Linked DNA regions of Homo sapiens: region 2 is linked to region 1. The links come from fine-mapping of genetic effects on gene expression. Tissue or cell type: non-classical monocytes. Region 1 holds a variant in brackets; the other region holds the start of a gene. All regions are shown on one strand. Distances are from middle to middle.

Region 1 (5,154 bases):
AACAAATTTTTAATAAAGTCATTATCCTTCCCTTTATGAAACCATAGAATTAATAGAAAAACTCACCTCTCTGAGATCATATACTGTCAAAGATATGGAAATTATGGACATGATTATGATGGCAAAAGCATATTCCTTATAGTCTTCACTAAACCACAAACAGACACTGAAGAGTTGAAATATATAAAATGGATTTAGAACCTGTTGGCAGACATAAAAACAGGAAGACAAGGGAGAGTTTTAGGCTTCACTCTGCTCTTCATTTACTTGTTTTCATAATCATCTTCATGACATACATCATCCCACACAATATTCTTATTATATTTATTCGGCAATTGACACGTGCCAGACACCGCTCTAAGCAACTTTACTTGAATTTTCTCATTGAATTCCCACAGTTACCTTATTAACCAGAAGTTGTTACTTATCTCCTTTGTAATGATAAAGAAACTGAAACTTAGAGCTTGAGAAATACGTCCAAAGTCATGCGACTATGATTGCCACAGACCCAAGACTTAAACACAGGCAATCTGACCCCAGAGCACTTACTTTTAATCACTGCCTCACTTTATAATTTACAAAGTAGTGTCTCATGTATTGACATGTCGGCCATCACAATAGTTATTTAAGGAGTAGATGTTGTCACCTCCTGTCTACATTTACTGGCCTTCAGAAAGGTGAAGTATTAGTTCAGGTTTATAAAGTTAAAATACTTTCTAGTCTCTTCTTCTCTATGATATAACACCTGCCATATTTGAAGTCATTAAGGAACTTGATTAATGGGTGAGTTGAAGACTGCATGTTCTCATAAGTAGAGAGCTGTGCTGAAAGCAGTAAGCTGTAATAGAGCATCTAGAACACTGTGCGAGAGAGTAGCTGTGAACTTCAACAGCTTTAATTCTGCTTTGGTCAAAAACATGCTGTGCCTTTACTTAAATTCCCCCTAGCTGGTTTCCCTCTCTCTAAAACAGGAATGGCAAACCTTTCTTCTGGTTAGAAAGGCAGCACACAGAAACATTCCCTATTGGTTTGTTTTACTTTCTTTCATGCTTGACGGCTTGTTGGAAATATTTTGAAAGTACCTGAAGTTTAGTAAGCTTGTTTTAAGGCAAGGAGGAGTCGAGAGAGAGCACAGGGAAGCCAGAGGACAGCTAGAGGGCTACGGTTTGATAATAATCGCTGTAAAGTGAAACAATGATGAGCTCAGTGATGGGGTCCAAAAGGAAAATTTCATCTTATACCTTGAGATCAGCAGTACTGAGAAGGCTGAATAAATGGTTTTTTTCTTCCTACAATTTTAGGCACCAAGGAAATTGTATCTGTTACCTAACAAAAGGATTAGCTTAAAAAAAATTGAGTTTCATGAAGTTAAAACAAGTTAAGCAGCATAGTATTAAAAAAGAAAAGAAACATTATATTCATCCAGCCATTAAATGGTAAATAAGTACAATGAGTTTCACACCCTATATTGCATAAGGCAATGTGCAAAAGAACCACTTGAAGAAAAAGAGTAAGCAAGAGATATGAGGATAATATGCTTGGCATACTTTCAAAATATACTCTATGTGAAGTTACTTATTAACAATTAGCACTCCTGATTATTTCACTAGAGCCAAACTTCCTTATTTTCTGTCCAACACCAAGAGAAAATGCTGGAGAAATTACCTCCTTGATGAGCAGTTTCCAAATTGGTGTAACTTCAACATCGATAGTATTAGGCCCACATATTAACCTCCTATAGAAAGAAATCACAGATCACTCTGTCACAAATAATAAAATTAAAACTGACTCCTCACCTATTCAGAAAAAGGTCTATTCCATGTTCACTTTCTCACTTGTGAGACCAACATAAGTCTCCCTTGTTAAATACCATTCTGATCCTTCTCAAAATAATGGGAGGTGAGGGTTCCCAGTTGCAAAAACGATAAATATGACCATATTGCTTCTAGAAGCATACTCTTTCCAAGGTCTAAATATTTTCCTAAATGGTATTTTGGGTATTTAATATTAAATATTGTCTCATTCAAGTACTTTCAGGATTGGCATGTTCCCAACTCTGTCTCTCCTCAATTCCGGTTTTATTACTGTAAGACAGTGAGGTAGTTAAGAGAAATTACTTTTATTGATAAGGAAATGCTGTTTCTACTTTCCTACCCCTATTTAGAAGTTCTGGAAAACTTCAGAATGTATTTTAATGTGAGTGGAAAGGCTCTGTGATCTCAAAAATAGCT[C/G]TACACACATAATTATTCAGCTTTTTGATTCAGTGTCTCTAAAACCCAGAGATGTGTTTCTTTGATTATGCAGAGGAAAGACATTTTATGAGTTATGTTACTGTTGAAAACACTAACCGCTTTCTCTGTGTCTTCCACCTCGATGCTCAGATTAAATAGCTTGGTCAAATGTATGAGAGCAGTGCTTCTCAAACTTTAATGTTTATATAGATCATGTGGTGATATTGTTAAAATGAAGATTCTGATTCAATGGGATGAAAAGTGGTCTGAGATCCTTCATTTCTAACAAGCTCCCAGGTGATGCTGATTCTGCTAGGCTGTACATCTCTTCAAAGTACTAGAAATGGGGAAGGGGGAAGCATGTGAATCATAGAAACTTAGAACAGCAAGGCCTTTAAAGAGTCCTTCTACCCATGTCTATGATTGGGAAACAAAGGTCCAGAGAGGAAAAGGTATTTGTTCAAAGCCCACAGACTCTTGACATACCAGTGCCCTCCCTAAACCTCTCTCCTCTGCCTAATAACTGATTTGGAAATGTGGAGCTACACATCTTGCATGGTGTTCTGCTGCTGCTCCATGGTTATTATTTAACTGCGTTATCATGGTCTAATATGTATTTCTTGATTTTAACCTAAAATGGCTCAACTTTATATTATAATAACCTTGAGAAACTTTGTATGGAGTAGAAAGAGCATTACATCTGCAGTCAGGAGTGTGGGACTCAGTTCTTCCGCTACTAATTCCCATCTGTGTGACCTCGTTCCGGCCATGAAACCCCTCTGAGCCTCAGATTTCTCATTTGTTGTGTGGAAATGGTGATAATGTCTGTTCTACCTGCCCCATAAGGTTGCTGTGAAGATGATGTAATATAATGTATGTGAAAGATTTAATTTAATAATACTAAATAGAGCATTATAATATTTTCTGATATTAATCCATTAAGATAACTATTTACTAGCTGTCTATTTGGCTAACTGATAATAATCCTTTTGAGCTAGTATAGGCAATAATATGCATGGTACCTAATCTCCTGTTCTTCTCTTGTCAAGCCTGATCCAAATTTTTGATGTATCTTGGCAGAACTAAGCCAGTCTTCCAAAGAACTAAAATAATAATAATGAAAAGAACATATTTAGCAATAATATTTTTGAGATAACATTTTTCTTCTTTGGCTGTACTTGCTAAAACAACTTACCCAATTTTCTGGAACTGTCCTTCTAAGTAGTTCCAAACATATCTTATTTTCTGCACTTTGATGCATCTCACCTGCAAAAGAAAAGTACTAAGAAAACCTCTAGTTTGAGGATCAGAGAATAAACAGCAACCCAGTGGCTAAAGAAGCATTTGTTTGAAAAGCAAAGATAAAACTCTAACATACTTATTTAAGATTTTATCCTTTTCTAATTTACCCTTTGCTTTTCTACCATACAAATGGTATTCTTTATTAGAAGTCATCATTCAATCAACATGTATCATGGACCTACTATATAGAAAAATATATATGAATAAAACTTAGTCTCTGCATTCTACTACTTTATAAACTAAGGAGGAAAAAATTCCAAAAACAAGGCATACAGTCCAATATGTACCATGCCAAAAAATAAAAACATAATAACATAAAAAATACGGTCTTGAAATGCTGTAGACGTAAAGAGAGAGAAGATGATGGAAGGCATCATGATGGAGATGATGTATGAGTTACAGTGTCGAAGGATTGGAAGACTTATACTCAGATGAGAAAATAGAAAGTATTTTAAAGAGATTGTTCACAAGTTAGTTTGGGGGAAGAAGGCAAGTGAGCACGCCTGTTTGTAGAATGAAGAATGAAGCTAGAAAGGTAAACTGAAACCAAAGTATTGATACAGGAGTTAAGAAGAAATTACTTGGGCAGATAATGAGGCTACATAAGTCCTCGGTAAGGTTTTCTTTTTAATGAAAAGCAGTGCCCAGTCATTTTCCTTTCTAACATAAAAAGAGCCAACTATATGCTACCTCCAAAGAATCATTTAACTAGTAATAACATACAGAGACTGAAAATGAAAGAATGGAAGAAGACATTCCATGAAAATGGAAACCAGAAAAGAGTAGAAATAGTTATATCAGATAAGATACACTTTAAATGAAAACTATAAAAAGAGACAAAAAAGATCATTGCATAATGACAAAGGAGTCAACTCAGTAAGAGATTAACACTCATGTGTATGCACCCAACATTGGAGCACCTAAATATATAAAGCAAATATTAATAAAACCAAAGGGAGAAATGGACTGAAATACAATGATAGTAAAAAATTTCAACACCTCACTCACAGCAAAGAACAAATCATTCAGACAGAAAATTAACGAAGAAATATCAAATCTAAACTACACTCTAGACCAAATGGACCTAATAGACACTTACAGAACATTCCATTCAACAGCTGCAGAATATACATTCTTCTCAACTGCTCATGGAACAGTCTCCAGAATAGATTATACATTAGGTCACAAAAAAGTCTTAACAAATTTTAAAATCATATCAAGTATTTTTTTCTGACTATAATAGTATAAAAGTAGAAATCACTAAGGAAGCAAGAAAAACTTTGGAAACTCTGCAAATACATACAAATTAAACAACATGCTCCTGAACAACCAATTGGTCAACAAAGAAATTAAAAGAGACATTCAAAATTTCTTGAGACAAGTGAAAATGAAAACACAGCTTACCAAAAACCTATGGGATACAGAAAAAGCAGTTCTAAGAGGTCAATGTATAGCAGTAAACACCTATATACAAAAAAGAATGATCTCAAATACACAATCTAACATTGCACCTCAGGGAAAATGAGAACAAACTAAATCCAAAATTAATAGAAAGAAGGAAATAATAAAGATCAGAACACAGGTAAATAAAACGAGACAACAAAAGGTCAAAAAACCCAAA
Region 2 (5,154 bases), 63 kb after region 1:
ATGTGTTCTGTTAAGAGTGGAATGTTCTCCGGAAGAACTGGAAAAGGTATCAGTGGGCTATGTTCAGGTCCAGAGACAAAAGAGCTGTCAACTTAAACTAACCTGTGCGGTGCCTCAGCTCCTGGACTTACTGGTTGATGCAACCTTAGGGAAAGCCTGTGTGCATCAATTTCCTCATCTTTAAAGTTAGAATCACAGCATCTACCTCATAGGGTTGTGAGGAAAACTAAATTAGCTAGTGGCCAAGAAAATGCTGTGTATACTAAAAATCACTACAAAATATGTAGACTATATATATAGCTTGATAATTTTTAAAGTTTACTGCTCTGGGCAAGGGATGGAGGAGTGAGTTAAAAAGGAACACAGTGTCAGACACAGCAACAGGCAGGTGGCCAGGTTTCTGTAGGCAGAAGAGGATGGAGAGCTCAGGAGTGCATACTAATTGCTGCACCTCTGCTGAGACTACTGGCCAAATGGCTGCCTACCAGAAAACACAGTGTCCCTTTCCATATTAAAGGGCCTCTCCTAACTGGGCTTTCAGCTGCATACAAAACTACGTGGAGTTCTCCATGCATCTGATGGTGCCATTATGAAGATGAACTGTTAACTAAATTGCTTTGGTGGAATATGTATGCTAGGGAAGAGGTAACAGTTTCCCTACAACCATGAATGTCTTCTGGAAAATAAATGATTCTTATTGAGACTTGAAAGACAAATTGTCTGAGAGCAGAAAGGGGTTTACTGGAAAAGAGTGAGTGTATTTCTAAATGAGAGAGAAAAAAAATGTTTCAGAGGAAGGAGCCCCTGCCTTCTGGTGAAGAGTATTCAAGATGAAGATAAACTTTTCAACTTAATATCGAGAGTAATGAGATATTCACTTCCTAAAGAAAACTCTTTAAAGAAACAAAGATGATATCCAATGTGGGCTAGCAAGCCATTTCTGGTGACATTTGTGGAGGGGCTGAAGGCAATTCATTTGGCAGTCAAATCTGAATGAAGTAAAGGATATGGTTAAGAAAGGCACCTGAATTAATGTACATTTTACTTCTTTATAATTTTTTCAGCTTTGATAGCAGAAGGGATCTACTCTTGAAAGTCCAAAAAATGTTGTTGCTATAGGAACAGGTAAGCAGATTAGACTTGAAAGACCAGTTTAGGAACAAAGAATGTAATAGTCAGGGCTAAAGCAATTAACCAAGAAAACATTTTAAGTAAATATCTTTCAGGTTTGTTATTTACATATTAATTCCAGGAAGATTAAATGCTATTATGGAATGAGAGCGTCACATTTTAACATTTTAATTACATCATTACTGGCATAAAAGACTATGCTTACACAATTAGCAGAAAGATCTTATTAAACAGAAGTACATATTTCTAACTCTCTCTTGATTATATTGTAATTGAGAAATACAGTTTTAAATTCATCCTGAGCATGAAAGTCATCTTTGATTTTCCTATAGTTCTCAAGATAGAAGCACATCTAAAATCAAAGAGATACTGAACTACCGAAAGTTTTCTGTAACCAATCTCTATAATGAGGAAGCCACAAAAGTAAAATTCTAGAAGAAAACAGAAATGTGTGTAGGCTGATAATTGTTAATATTGCATGTCTTCCCTGTCCAACAGACTCGGTGAACAAGACATTTGAGAAGAGAAGGTCAAAGACCCAGCTGCACTTCTGCTTCACTGCTGAACTTCTGCTTCTTCCTATCAGGGAATACACTGCTCCTCACATTAGGGATTTCCTAAAATTGTTAGGTGTTTTGAACAGAACTGGCTATACCAATGAGGCTCAAACAAGAATCATAAAGTGCATGGTGCTTCTCTCCCTCTCTGTTTTCTTTAAAAAGAAAACATTCTTGACAAGATGAATACAATATTTTCATTCTAGCAAATTTCTGCTGTCAGAGGTTATATTTACAGGATAGAGAGATTTCTCAAACATGACCTTTTCTCGTGTAATACCAGAGTGAAATTTTAGAAAAGTCTGTGTGTGTGTGATGCGTGCGTGTGTGTGTGTGTGTGTGTGTGTGTGTGTGTGTCTCGCAGGCTGAGAAGTGGGATGGGAAGAAGGGAATGTGGCTAGAATCTTACCATCTCATTCTCTTCTCCTTCATTGAGCAGAGCGTGCTGGCCCTTCTCAAAGTGTCCCATGAAAAAGTTATTCCACACCTCCTCCCTGACCTTGTCGTGCAGACGCTTCCAGGATGAACTCCAACTCGCCGAGCCACCGCAGCTCCTCAGCTGACTAAAAGAGTTAATGATCCTCCAGGTTAAAACTCCTCCTTGAGCACACACCTTCTCTCAACAAATGACAATACTTGGCAAACTGAACTCCTCCCACGAGTCGCCCTCTGCTAGGAGGAATTGCTGGCTGCTCCCTGCTTATTGCATTCTCTCAGAGCAGCTGTCTCAAAGGAGGCTGCTCCCATGCCGATCTTTTTGTGCCCAACTTACAGGGAAAGAACTCATTGCCTGCCCAGTGCCTGCCAGCCTCAGACTTCTGACTGCAAATCCAACAGGACAATACAGAGTTGGCAGGACCCTTCTCAGGAGTGAGGAGCGGGTGCAAGAACTCCCAGGTCACTGCTTTATTCAGAGGACCTAAGGAATTGGGTTGAGCGGAAGCGCACAGAGCTGCAGATTTTCTTTGATGAATGAAAGCTTCAATCCACAGGTTTCTAATAGTACTCTCATTCATTTTGCTTACAAAAGGTACAGATTATCACTAATCCTCTTCAAAAGGTATTTGTAATCACATTTCCTTGTATATGCAAAAAAAATTCTATTTAAAGTGTATGTGAAATTAAGTTTACTTTTTTGAAACACATGTAGAAAAAGAACAAAGGTATCATCAAACTAGTCTATGTAGTCTCCTTTCACTAAAATATTGATGGTTCAACACTTAAGGAAGTCTAGAAATAAAATATTCAAATGACTATATGGCCAGACTCTTTTTTAATTTGTTTACACATTTATTCAATAAACAGTGCCTGAGCACAGGGACTACCTAAAAAAGTTAAGTCATATTTGCTACCCTCGTGTTGATGTAAGGATTCAAACATCCAAACAAATATGATAGAAAGTGGATTGTTATTATAAGAGATGGAACAGAAGTCTAAGAAAACTGTCAGAAGTCCCAATGTGGTGTAGAGAAACACACCCCTACCCTAGCTCTGGCAAAATACCTGTATTCCAGCTGCTTGTCTGCACTGGCCTTGCTGTGTGATCATTTAACTATAGGAACCGGCTCTTCTCATCTGGTACCGCCCGACAGGACTTTTGAGAGAATGGAATGAGATCATTGTGAAAGTACATTGTACAGCACTGATCAAGTGCTGTTAGGATTATTAAACTAAATGTGCATTTGAACAGTAGGTGTTAGGACATAGTGGCTAAGGGCATATACACTAAATTTGGAAGGCCTGAGTTCAAATTTGGACTGTACTAGGTGGTCGTTGTGCTACCTTGGGATATAACAAGTTATACAAACTCCATTCTCCTCTATTTCCTCACATGTAACATAAAGATGATGATAATAGAACCTACGTCCTAAAACAGACTTTTAAGAAAGAGTGCCTGGGAAATAATAGGTGTTCCACAAAAGATAGTTATTTTTACCTTCACCATGTCCACTGTCTGTCCCTCAAGCTACATTGGCAATGATATCTCCAACCTGACCCAAATAACCCTAATGTGACCAAGATCAATGTGTGCATGTGTGTGTGTGTATATGTTGTATGTGTAAAACCTTGAGCAAATAGTGAAGTATAGGATAAACATAAAAAGTAAGCTAAGTAAACCCATTGTAATAGTAATTACAAAATATATATGTACGTGTGTGTGTATGTGTGTGTGTGTGTGTATATATATATGTAGTTCTCTTGGTTTCAAAAATTTGCTAGCACAATTTAACCAAATAAATGAAAATAAAATTAACATTTTATCACAAGGTCAAAATATAAGGAGTAAAGGGTTTATGGGGGGGGTAATAAAAATGTTCTAGAACTACTGATGGCTTCAAAAATTTGTGAACATACTAAACCTCACTGAACTCTATACTTTAAAAGGGTGAATTTTATGAAATGTGAATTATATCTCAATGAAGAGATATAACAAATTTAAAAATCATACCTCAATAAAAAATTATACCTCAAAAAAACCTAACTGAACATTTAACAGCCTTACTAGGCAGTAATTATATATTTAGTACAGAAAAAAATATAAAACAAGCATATTCCAAATTTCATCTCAACTGATGGAGGTTGAGGAGTGTTAGTATGTGACGTGGTGAAACTATATCAGTGCTCCTGGGCAGGTGAGAAAGAAGTAATTCATTCTCCTGTTTATCACTGGCAATATTTGCAGTTTCCTTTTGGCTGGGTTCCTGAATGCACTTGGCAACTCTTGCACCGTTGTGGGATTGAGATGAGTGTGTAACTGATTAACAGCTAGAGGAGAAACTGTACACAAACTTACCCCATCAAATAAATCAGGTCATGCTGCTACAATATTTAAGCTAAACTTGAACAGGAAAATATGTAAGTCCTTAAGAACATTAAAAGCTTTTATAAAAATCAGATGTCCATGGAAAATTATTTTCCACAAACCTGGTTCAATAGAGCTGAGGACTCCAGTAGTGAGAGAGTTTCCTCAGGTTCCTTGGGAGTTCTATTGGTAAAACATCTAGATTTTATCGATGGCAACACTGCTTATGGACAGCACTCACCCTCATTTAGTGATTTTGGTCTACAAACATAACCATAACCAGAAACAGGGCTAGGTTGTGTGGGAAAGCAAAGAGAACATTTACAGAACACTTCCACATATGAGGCACAATTCTAAACAGTTTACACTCACTGTTGCACACAATCCTGACAAAAGCCTCTGTGGTTGATACTATTCTGGTCATTCTTATTTGACAGACAAGGAAACACAGGTGCAGACATTAAGTAATTTGCCTACATTCAAACCATTAGTAAGTGACAGAATGAGTATTCGGACCTAGGCAATGCAGCTCTCCCAATCCGTGATCCTAGTTACTGGACTAATACCTCTTCTACACATTTATTTGGCACATCCAAAGTGCTCTGCAAAGAGGTTTGCATTTATATGACCAGAAAAGCCTCTTTGTGAAGGAAGCATTTTGAG

Direction of the effects. Positions count from the first base shown, and alleles are read on the strand shown. Sizes are in standard deviations (SD) of each study's normalised expression.
For the expression in non-classical monocytes of the gene that starts at base 2,253 in region 2, G is the high allele of the variant in region 1 and C is the other (large effect, 1.4 SD a copy in Schmiedel 2018).

The links. PIP is the estimated chance that this variant, and not a neighbour inherited with it, causes the effect.
Region 2: it holds the start of ATP13A4, and the variant in region 1 is fine-mapped to the expression of ATP13A4 in non-classical monocytes (Schmiedel 2018, PIP 0.95).

What each region holds. Positions count from the first base shown.
Region 1 is chr3:193,489,664-193,494,817 of GRCh38, forward strand. It overlaps ATP13A4 (ATPase 13A4), which reads right to left. Exons shown (of 30, transcript NM_032279.4): 4 at 3,427-3,497; 5 at 3,254-3,334; 6 at 1,666-1,735; 7 at 67-201. Among named protein-coding and RNA genes, the nearest start is that of ATP13A4-AS1, 61 kb to the right of the region's middle. The variant C/G (reference allele first, on the strand shown) is at 2,232.
Region 2 is chr3:193,552,643-193,557,796 of GRCh38, forward strand. ATP13A4 (ATPase 13A4) reads right to left here and starts at 2,253. Exons shown (of 30, transcript NM_032279.4): 1 at 2,098-2,253. The coding sequence starts at 2,157. It overlaps ATP13A4-AS1 (ATP13A4 antisense RNA 1), which reads left to right and starts at 571. Exons shown (of 2, transcript NR_121666.1): 1 at 571-645; 2 at 2,128-2,942.